Homo sapiens: one gene and its partners. The protein of the gene in region 2 purifies or fractionates together with the protein of the main gene of each other region. This does not show direct contact. Each region holds a gene or a part of one and is shown on either strand. Other genes may lie near its edges. The genes, in order: LTA4H, GALK2 and MVD.

Region 1 (2,322 bases), on a different chromosome or scaffold from region 2:
TGGCATGATTTTTTTTTCCAGAATTTGGACAAAATTCATAAAGACCTTGACTGAGATATTCTTGTATCTTGCTGTCAAGATACAACTTATCCCCCTCTCACTAAGCATTCCTTTATTATGTCAAGCAACCTACCCTTGACCTCTATGCAACATTTGAACACAAAAGAGTTAGCTTTATCTGCTTATTTCTCCTTACATTTAACTTCAGACTCTCTTTCTTGTCTATACCTACCCACCAATTATCTTCTAGTTACCTTTAAAAATCTTTGTGTATATAAGGCTATCTTTGATTTATTTCTATTTTATCAGTATCTAACTCTATTTGATCCAAAATAGTAATCCATATATAATGCTTCTAAAAAGAGGAATGAAATTATTTCACATTTTAAATATTTATAAGTGTGAATCCCTATTCCAAAATTATACTGATAAACTTTAACAAATTAAAAAATATTGTCATATAGATTACGTTTAAATATTTGACAGTTTTCTTCCTGTTTCTTAGATGAATTCAAAGTACGGTCTGAGTGGGTTCTTACTTGAATAAGGGCCGGGTAAACTTCATTCTTCCTTGTTCAGTTGCCATCTTTAGCGCCAAAGGAATTGCGTCCTCCCACTTGGATTGAATGCAGAGCCGCAGCCATCTAAAAGGAGGATTTGGGGGGAGCATGGAGTAGAAAATGAGGAAGGGGCAGGATATGACAGGTATATCTTAATATTACTTCTGTAGTGATATGAATAACCCCACTATAGTTATACTGTACACCACTTTATGGTATGTCTTGATTCTGAGACTCTCAAATCCTTATATATACAATTTAATAATTGGTGAAGAGAAAGAAGAGGAGCTGGTTCTTGAAAAAGATCATATATTTTTAAAGGTCTGGATCAGGTAGGTGCTCACATACCTTATAAATCCAATTTCTGAAGGAATTAAACTTTGGTTTAAGCCTCACATTACAAATTTGAATTAAGAAAGATCAGGTAGGTGCTCACATACCTTATACATGCAATTTCTGAAGGAATTAAACTTTGGTTTAAGCCTCACATTACAAATTTGAATTAAGAAAGATTAACATATAATAGAATAAAATATTTCTAACTATTCCCATTTCAAAGTAGATTTAGTTGGTTGTGGAGAAAGCCTATTTACCACGGAATCCTTCATTCTAATTTTTTTTTTTTCTTTTAAGGCAAGAGAGGTTTAGAGCAAAGTCTAACAAAAAGATTAATACTACCAGATTACATATTGCAACTATTCCTTAAATACCACTATAAGTATTTATATAGAAGCAGTCAGTTTGACAAGGAATTCTCAAGACTCAAGTATGTCTCATACTCTGCATTCCCTTTCTCCATCTTTCAAAGGAGTTTAGTTTTCTGCTTTCTTCCACAGAGACAAGTTAAAATGATGTACCTGAATCGTATTTCAGAATTGTTAATGGCATTGAAGTTGTACACCTCTTGCATTCGCTTTATGTGCCCCAATGGAAGAGGTGCCTAAGAGCAAAATAAAGAAGTATACCGTATCATTTCAACAGGATTCCTTGGAAGAAAGGAGCTGGAGAGAAATGCATAGCCAGATTAAAATCCTAAATATTTTATAATATAGAAATAAGTCAGATAAAAATAAAAGAAACAAATTGCACACTAAGTAAATTCTGTGCAAACTTATTCCAGATGAGGATATTCTACTGGGAGCACAGGGATAATTTACTTTGTGAAGTATTCAGCATTAAATGAGAATTGCTCTTCTTAGACTTTTTAGCATGTATAAATATTATCTTTCAGACTTTTCCTAGAGTTTTTCTAGTTATTCTCTATAACTTATATATCTTAAATGCAATTCCATTCTCCAGATGAAATCATAGTTCCTTAATTTTTGCCTGATTCCCCCTAGCTTTATCTTTGTATATTTCCTCTGAAATCCCTGTTAAATTATCTGCATACCTACATAATAGCAGTTCTTAAATGTTTGTATTATAGATCTCTTTGGGAATCTGATGAATAATGTGGACTCTTTCCCTAGGGGGAAAATACACTTACTACATGAATACAAACTTCTGTATACAATTTCAGGGGGTTTATAAGCATCCTATCCCTACCTTAACTCACCCTAAAAGGGAGGACAAGTTTGGGTGAAGGAAAGAAAAAAGATGAGTTCAGTTTGGACAAGCAGAGAGTTTGTAGTGCCTGTGAGAGGCAGAGGTGCCTCTAGGTAGATGATAACTCTCCCCTCCAACCACGACCTCCTTACCTTACAGGACTCCACACTCACTAACCAATCTCTGCTTTCATGAACTACTAATCCTGTCGCTAATA
Region 2 (3,655 bases):
ATTGAGACATAAAAATCCATACAAAAGATCAACGAAACCAAAACTAGTTCTTTGAATGAATAAATAAGATTGACAGACTGCTGCCTAGTTAATAAAGAAAAAAGGGAGAAGATCCACATAAACATAATCAGAAATGACAAAGGTGATATCACCACTGACCTCAGAGAAATACAAAAAACCCTCAGACACTATTGTGGACACCTCTGTGCACTCAAACTAGAAAACCTAAAAGAAATGAATAAACTCCAGGAACTGAACCAGGAAGAAACTGAATTCCTGAACAGACAAATAAAAAGTTCTAAAATTGAATCAATAATAAAAAATCTACCAACCAGAAAAAGCCCTGGAGCAGATGGATTCACAGCCAAATTCTACCAAACATATAAAGAAGACCTGTTAGCAATCCTACTGGAATTATTCCAAAAATTGAAGAAGAGGGACACCTGCCTAACTCATTCTATAAGGCCAGCATGATTCCAATACCAAAACCTGGCAAAGACACAACAAAAAAAGAAAACTTCAGGCCAATATCCCTGATGAATATAGATGCAAAACTATTCAGCAAAAACTAGGAAATTGAATCCAGCAGTACATCACAAAGCTAGTCCACCACTATCAAGCAGCCTTCATTCCTTGGATGCAAAGGTTAGTTCAACATAGGCAAATCAATAGGTGTGATTCACAACATAAACAGAATTAAACAAAAACCATATGATCATCTCAATAGAAATAAAGACTTTCAATAAAATTCAAGAACTCCTTATGTTAAAAACTACCAACAAACTGGGCATCAAAGGAACATACCTCAAAATAATAAGAGCCATCTATAACAAACCCACAGTCAACATCATACTAAACAGGCAAAAGCTAGAGGCATTCCCCTGAGAACCAGAACAAAACAAGGATTCCCATTCTCACCTATTCAACATAGTATTGGAGGTCCTAGCCACAGCAATCAGGCAAGAGAAAGAAATAAAATGCATCCAAGTAGGAAAATAGGAAGTCAAACTATCTCTCTACACTGACAATATGATACTATACCTAGAAAACCCCATAGTCTCTGCCCAAAGGCTCGTGGAACTGACAAATAACTTCAGTAAAGTTTCAGGATACAAAATCCATGTACAAAAATCAGTAGTATTTTTATACACCAGTAATGTCCAAGCTAAGAGCCAAATCAAAAACACAATACCATTCACAATAGCCACAAAAAGAATGAAATACTTAGGAATATAGTTAACCAAGGAGGTGAAAGATCTCTACAATAAGAATTACAAAACATGGCTGAAAGAAATCAGAGACAACACAAACAAATGGGAAAACTTTCCATGCTCATGGGTTTGAAGAATCAATATTATCAAAATGGCCATACTGCCCAAGGCAATTTACAGATTCAATGCTTTTCCTATCAAACTACCAATGTCATTTCTCACAGAATTAGAAAAAAAAAAATTCAAAAATTCAAATAAAAAATGGGCCCAAATAGCCAAAGCAATCCTAAGGAAAAAGAACAGAGCTGGAGCCATTATACCACCCAACTTTAAACTATACTACAAGGCTACAGTAACCAAAACAGCATAAAACAACAGACACATAGACTGATGCAACAGAATAGAAAACTCAGAAATAAATCCATACACCTACAGCCATCTGATCTTTGACGAAGTCAACAAAAATAACCAATGGAGAAATGACTCCCTATTCAATAAATGGTACTGGGATAGGTGGCTATTCATACACAGAAAATGGAAACTGGACCCCTTCCTTTTACCATATACAAAAATCAACTCAAGGTAGATTAAAAACTTAAATGTGTGACTTAAAACTATAAAAATTCTAGAAAAAACAGCCAGTATATGCAGTTCTGAACATAGAACTTGACAAAGATTTCATGATGAAATCTCTAAAAGCAATTGCAACAAAAACAAAAATTGACAAGTGAGACATAAACTAAAGAGCTTCTGTACAGCAAAAGAAACTGTCAACAGAGTAAACAGACAACCTACAGAGATAGGATAAAATTTTTGCAAACTATGCATCTTACAAATGTCTAATATCCAGAATCTATGAAAAAGGTAAACAAATCAACAAGCAAGAAACAAATAACTCCATTAAAAAATGGGCAAAGGACATGGACAGATACTTCTCAAAAAAAGACATACACATGGCCAACAAGCATATAAAAAATGCTCAATATCTAATCATTACAGAAATGCATATTAAAACCATAATGAGATATCATCTCACACCAGTCAGAATGGCTATTACTAAAAAGTCATAAAACAACAGATGTTGCCAAGTTTGCCAAGAAAAGGGAATGTTTATACACTGCTAGTGAGAACGTAAATTAATTCAGCCATTGTGGAAAACAGTTTGGAGATTTCTCAAAGAACTTAAAACAGAACTACCATTCAACTCAGCAATCCCATTACTGGGTATATACCCAAATGAATATAAATCATTCTACCAAAAAGACACATGTGGACAGGTGCAGTGGCTCACGCCTGTAATCCCAACACTTTGAGAGGCCAAGGCGGGTGAATCACGAGGTCAGGAGTTCGAGACCAGCCTGGCCAACATGGTGAAACCCTGTCTCTACTAAAAATACAAAAAATTAGCTGGGCGTAGTGGCAGGTGCCTATAACCCCAGCTACTCGGGAGGCTGTGGCAGGAGAATCTCTTGAACCAGGGAGGCAGAGGTTTCAGTGAGCCAAGATCGCATCACTGCACTCCAGCCTAGGCTACAGAGTGAAACTCTGTCTTAAAAAAAAAAAAAGAAAAAGACACATGCACTTATATATTCACTGCAGCACTATTCACAATAGCAAAGATATGGAATCAAACTAGATGCCCAACAGTTGACTGGATAAAGAAAACGTGGTGCAAATACACTGTGGAATACTATGCTGCCATAAAAAGGAATGAAATAATGTCCTGTGTAGCAACATGGATGCAGCTGAGGGACATTATCCTAAACAAATTAATGCAGGAACAGAAAACAAAATACCATATGTTCTCAATTGTAAGTGGGAGGTAAACACTGAGTACATATGGTGACAAAGAAAGGAAAAGTACACACCAGGGCCTACTTGAGGATGGCCAGTGGTAGGAGAGTGAGAGTCAAAACACTACCCTTTGGATACTATGCTCACTACCTGGGTGATAAAATCATGTGTACACCAAACCCCAGAAACATGCAATTTACACATGTAAGAAACCTAGTGTGTATGCCCTGAACCTAAAATTAAGTTGAAAAAGAAAATAAATAAAAGTTCTGGAAAAAAAGAAATAAGATGAAGCATGCCTCATTTTTACAAAAACCATGAAGTCATTATTCTTCAGGAGGAAAAGCTTATGAATATATACATAGAGAGGCAGAGAGAGAGCAATACATGTTGTTTGATAAGCAAATTGCTCTTTGTATTTTCCAAAGCATTCTGGGAAATTTACTTATTCAAAAAAAATCTAAAAGAAAGGAAGACAGGCAGATGCAGAAAGAAAGGAAGATGGATACAGAGCAAGAGAATAGGTTGTGGATTAAGAAGCATAAGCAGAAGATAAGAATTATATTAAGCTTTTAAGACAGGTAGAAACTGCATTTCAGAAAAGGGAGAAAATTCATTTATAAAAGCACAGTGGTATTTAGGATTAAAAG
Region 3 (3,655 bases), on a different chromosome or scaffold from region 2:
AGAAGTCCAGGTTCCCCTCCCCACCAACGCTGTCCCATCCCCACCAGGCCCTCAGGAATTCCTGAGTGTCTGCTTGGCCTCTGACAAGAGCCGGCAGGTCAGGGGAGTCCAGTCTCCCGTGTGCTCTCCAATGACTCCTGGGGAGGTGAAAGTCCCCACTCCTTCAGGGAGGGAAAGGGGGCGGGGCACTGTTCCAGCCTGGAGTGTGGGAGGGATCTGTTTCTTTTTTTCTTTTCTTTTTTTTTTTTTTTGAGAAAGGGTCTCCCTCTGTTGCCAGGCTGGAGTAAGGCTGGAGTGCAGTGGTGCCATCTCGGCTCAGTGCAACCTCCGCCTCCCAGGTTCAAGCGATTTTCCCGCCTCAGCCTCCTGAGTAGCTGGGATAACAGGCGTGCGTCACTACAGCCTGGCTAATTTTTGTATTTTTAGTAGAGATGGGGTTTCACCATATTGGTCAGGTTGGTCTCAAACTCCCGACCTCAGGTGATCTGCCCACCTCGACCTCCCAAAGTGCTGGGATTACAGGCGTGAGCCACCGCGCCCGGCCAGGAGTCTGTTTCTGTGTTGCTAGGCTGCCCTTCCTGGTCCTGCTAGGGAGGGCTGGCTTTGGTTGGCAGTTCCAGCTTCTGCAGGGCTAGGTCTAGGGCAAGCAGAAAAGAAAGCCCCGGGCTCCCCCTGCACTGTCCCACAGCCGCCCTCTGTCACCCGTGAGAGTCTCACCTGTGATGTCCAGGGTCTCAGTTGTCCCCAGTGGGAGGAAGCGGGAGAAGTCCCCTGGCCCACCTTCCTGAAAGCAGAGGTTCGCCCGGCCTGTCAGGGCAGCGGCGTCCGCCTGCAAGGGGGGCCGCTCAGTGCTGTGCGTGAAAGAGCCTCGCGAGCTGCAGGGCGTGGTTCTCTGCCAGGTGTCCGCGTTTATCACCCCTGGAACTGTCCGCCATCCTCAGAGACCTCCCCTCGCACAAAACCGAGCAGATGGTGTGCTTAGCGAAGCCGCCGTGGAATAAGACTTCAGCTGAAGCACCACGCAGCGCTCCCAGGGCAAACGTTTCCTTTCGGGCTTTCTGGAAGTTTGATTTCACGTGCTGTCCCATGGCCGTGCTGGGCAGAAAGGGGTTTATCCTGGATGTTCCTGGGGCATATGAGCAGTGAGATGTGAGGAGTTCTCAGAGCTGGGCTCCTTTTGTTTGGGAAGGTGGAGGGGAGGCAGGCCGCGGTGGGAGCGATCCGCACCTGGGCACTCACGGATGCTGGAGTAGAAGCGATGAAGGAATGGGGAGCGGGGACGGAGGTTGGCTGGCCTCCAGCTCTGCTCTGGGAGCCTGAGCTCAGTGGGGTGGGAGCAGTTCTTGCAGGCCGGGGTCTGGCAGGAGGAGGGGCACACAGGTTGTGCGGTGAGAGACGGGACTGAGGCGGATGGGGGCCGTGGGTGGGGGGTGGGGGCACCTGTGGGGAACACTGGGGGAGGGTGGGCCGGGAAGCCCACCGGCCTGGCCCTGGCTGTTCATTACAGGGGGCAAGCGCGATGAAGAGCTGGTTCTGCCCATCAACTCCTCCCTGAGCGTCACTCTGCACCAGGACCAGGTATGTGTGGACTGACGACTAAACACCACAGTGCCATTTCCAGAACATTTGTAGAACAGTTGGTACCCGTTGGGTATGGTGGCTCACATCTGCAATCCCAGCACTTGGGGAGAGTCTCTTGAGCCCAGGCATTGGAGACCACAGTGAACCATGATCGCACCACTGCACTCCAGCCTGGGTGACAGAGTGAGACCCTGTCTCTGAAACAAAAAAAAAATTGGTACTTTTTTACCTAAAGGCTAGGATGAGATGGCCTAGCGACGACTCCCAGCCAGCACGCAGTGTCTGTTCCATCTCCCAGTATTAGGAGAGCTGAGCACAGCACACATGTGCCCCCAGGTCTCGTCACACATGCGCACACCGTGCCCCAGGGGCTCCCCTGGGAGTCCCCGTCTCTTTATTCAGGATAAGGCCTGGTTGCTCCACAAGGTGTGGCCCACGCTTTCATCCCCCACGGGCTTCCCCACTGCCCAGCTGAGACTGGCCTTTCCCCCCCTGCCCTCAGCAGGGCTGACCTTGCTCGAGTGGGCAGCCATGAGGCTCTCTCAGTAGAAAGGGGTACCTGGCTGGCATCGGTCCTCAATGCTGGCCTCTGAGGTGGCCCTGGGTTTCCTTTTCAGTTAAAAACCACCACAACAGCCGTCATCAGCAAGGACTTCACCGAGGACCGGATTTGGCTGAATGGCCGGGAGGAGGATGTGGGGCAGCCGCGGCTGCAGGCCTGCCTGCGGGAGAGTGAGCTGGGGTCCCCATAAGCCCATCCCTCCCTGTTGTCAGCAGGGTCCGAGCATCCAGAAAGTGCTTCTGCCTCTGTGCCCCTCCTGAGGCAGCAGGCGGGGTGGCTGGGAACCAGACATGCCCGCTGGGCCGCCAGCTCCAGGGCAGTGGCCCACCTCAATGACCAGCTGGGCTTGGGTCAGTCTGGGGTTTTCCCGGGTAAGAAACTCTCCACGAGGAGTCTGGCAGGCAGAGGCCTGGTGTTCAGCTGTGACCCCGGGCAGGTGGGCAGGAGCAGGGCGGGCAGGGTGCTGACGGCTGGGCCACACGCTGTCTCATTGTCTCTGCAGTCCGCTGCCTGGCCCGGAAGCGGAGGAACTCACGGGATGGGGACCCGCTGCCCTCCAGCCTCAGCTGCAAGGTGCACGTGGCATCGGTGAACAACTTCCCCACGGCTGCGGGCCTGGCCTCCTCAGCGGCGGGCTATGCCTGCCTAGGTGGGTGCCCACAGAGACCCGCAGGGGTTCTGGGCTGTGGGCGCAGGAGCCACTTCATGCTCTTCCCGGGTCAGGGAGCCCACTGCTGGGCGTGGCTAAAAGAGCATCCCCTCACCCCAGGCCTCCCTGGCCTCTCTGGAGTTGTTCAGTCTCTTCCCAGAGCACATCTGAACATTTTCATCTTCCAGTTGCAGCTGGCGTGGGGCTCTCGCCTGTAATCCCAGTACTTAAGAGGCTGATGGGGGAGAAGCACTGTAGGCCAGGAGTTCAAGACCAGCCTGGGCAACATAGTGAGACCCCCCCCCATCTCTACAAAAAATAAAAAAATCTTCCCGTTGCTGTATGTGGAGCCCCTCTAGATTGTCAGTGATAGAAACCACTTCAAACTGGCTCAGCCCTAAAATAGCGATGATTTTGTGGCTCACGTAACTGAGGATTCCAATGGGCACAGCTGGTTGCAGGCCCCGCTGGACCCAGCTCTCTGCTGGCCCCAGGCCACTTGCTGGCAGCTTCCCACCCACTGTCAGAGCCTGTCCCCCCGGTGGTGGTCTCACACCATCTTCACCCCTCAACTCCAGGGGTGACGCTTCCTGGCCCACCTGGGCTCCTGCGCCTTCCCTGAACCACCCTCGGTGACCAGGGTGGGTGACCAGACCTGGAGGTGGGGTTGCCCTGCTGGAGCCCTGTGGGAGGAGGGGAGAAGGTGGCTCCCGTGCTGGGTGGGCAGGGGGCGCGTCTTGTGGAGTCCAGCTCTGTCCTGGCATCGGTCCCTGCCCCACACAGCCTTAAAATTCCTTCCCACCCTCAAAGCCCAGCTTGGGTGTCCTCGGGGGCCTTTCTCCCGCCTTCCATGGGGCTTCCTG

The links.
Region 1: the proteins of GALK2 (region 2) and LTA4H fractionate together in Homo sapiens (co-fractionation; one large-scale study listed by BioGRID). This does not show direct contact.
Region 3: the proteins of GALK2 (region 2) and MVD fractionate together in Homo sapiens (co-fractionation; one large-scale study listed by BioGRID). This does not show direct contact.

Annotation. Positions count from the first base shown.
Region 1 is NC_000012.12:96,002,421-96,004,742, forward strand, and holds part of LTA4H (leukotriene A-4 hydrolase), read right to left. Parts: intron 1,562-2,322; coding exon of another isoform or gene 1,535-1,561; exon of another isoform or gene 1,501-1,534; coding exon 1,418-1,500; exon of another isoform or gene 1,187-1,417; intron 706-1,186; exon of another isoform or gene 645-705; coding exon 540-644; intron 1-539. UniProt on the Homo sapiens protein: Bifunctional zinc metalloenzyme that comprises both epoxide hydrolase (EH) and aminopeptidase activities. Acts as an epoxide hydrolase to catalyze the conversion of LTA4 to the pro-inflammatory mediator leukotriene B4 (LTB4).
Region 2 is NC_000015.10:49,295,726-49,299,380, reverse strand, and holds part of GALK2 (N-acetylgalactosamine kinase), read right to left. Parts: intron 1-3,655. UniProt on the Homo sapiens protein: Acts on GalNAc. Also acts as a galactokinase when galactose is present at high concentrations. May be involved in a salvage pathway for the reutilization of free GalNAc derived from the degradation of complex carbohydrates.
Region 3 is NC_000016.10:88,656,573-88,660,227, reverse strand, and holds part of MVD (diphosphomevalonate decarboxylase), read left to right. Parts: intron 1-1,507; coding exon 1,508-1,578; intron 1,579-2,198; coding exon 2,199-2,313; intron 2,314-2,645; coding exon 2,646-2,792; intron 2,793-2,980; coding exon of another isoform or gene 2,981-3,082; intron 3,083-3,655. UniProt on the Homo sapiens protein: Catalyzes the ATP dependent decarboxylation of (R)-5-diphosphomevalonate to form isopentenyl diphosphate (IPP).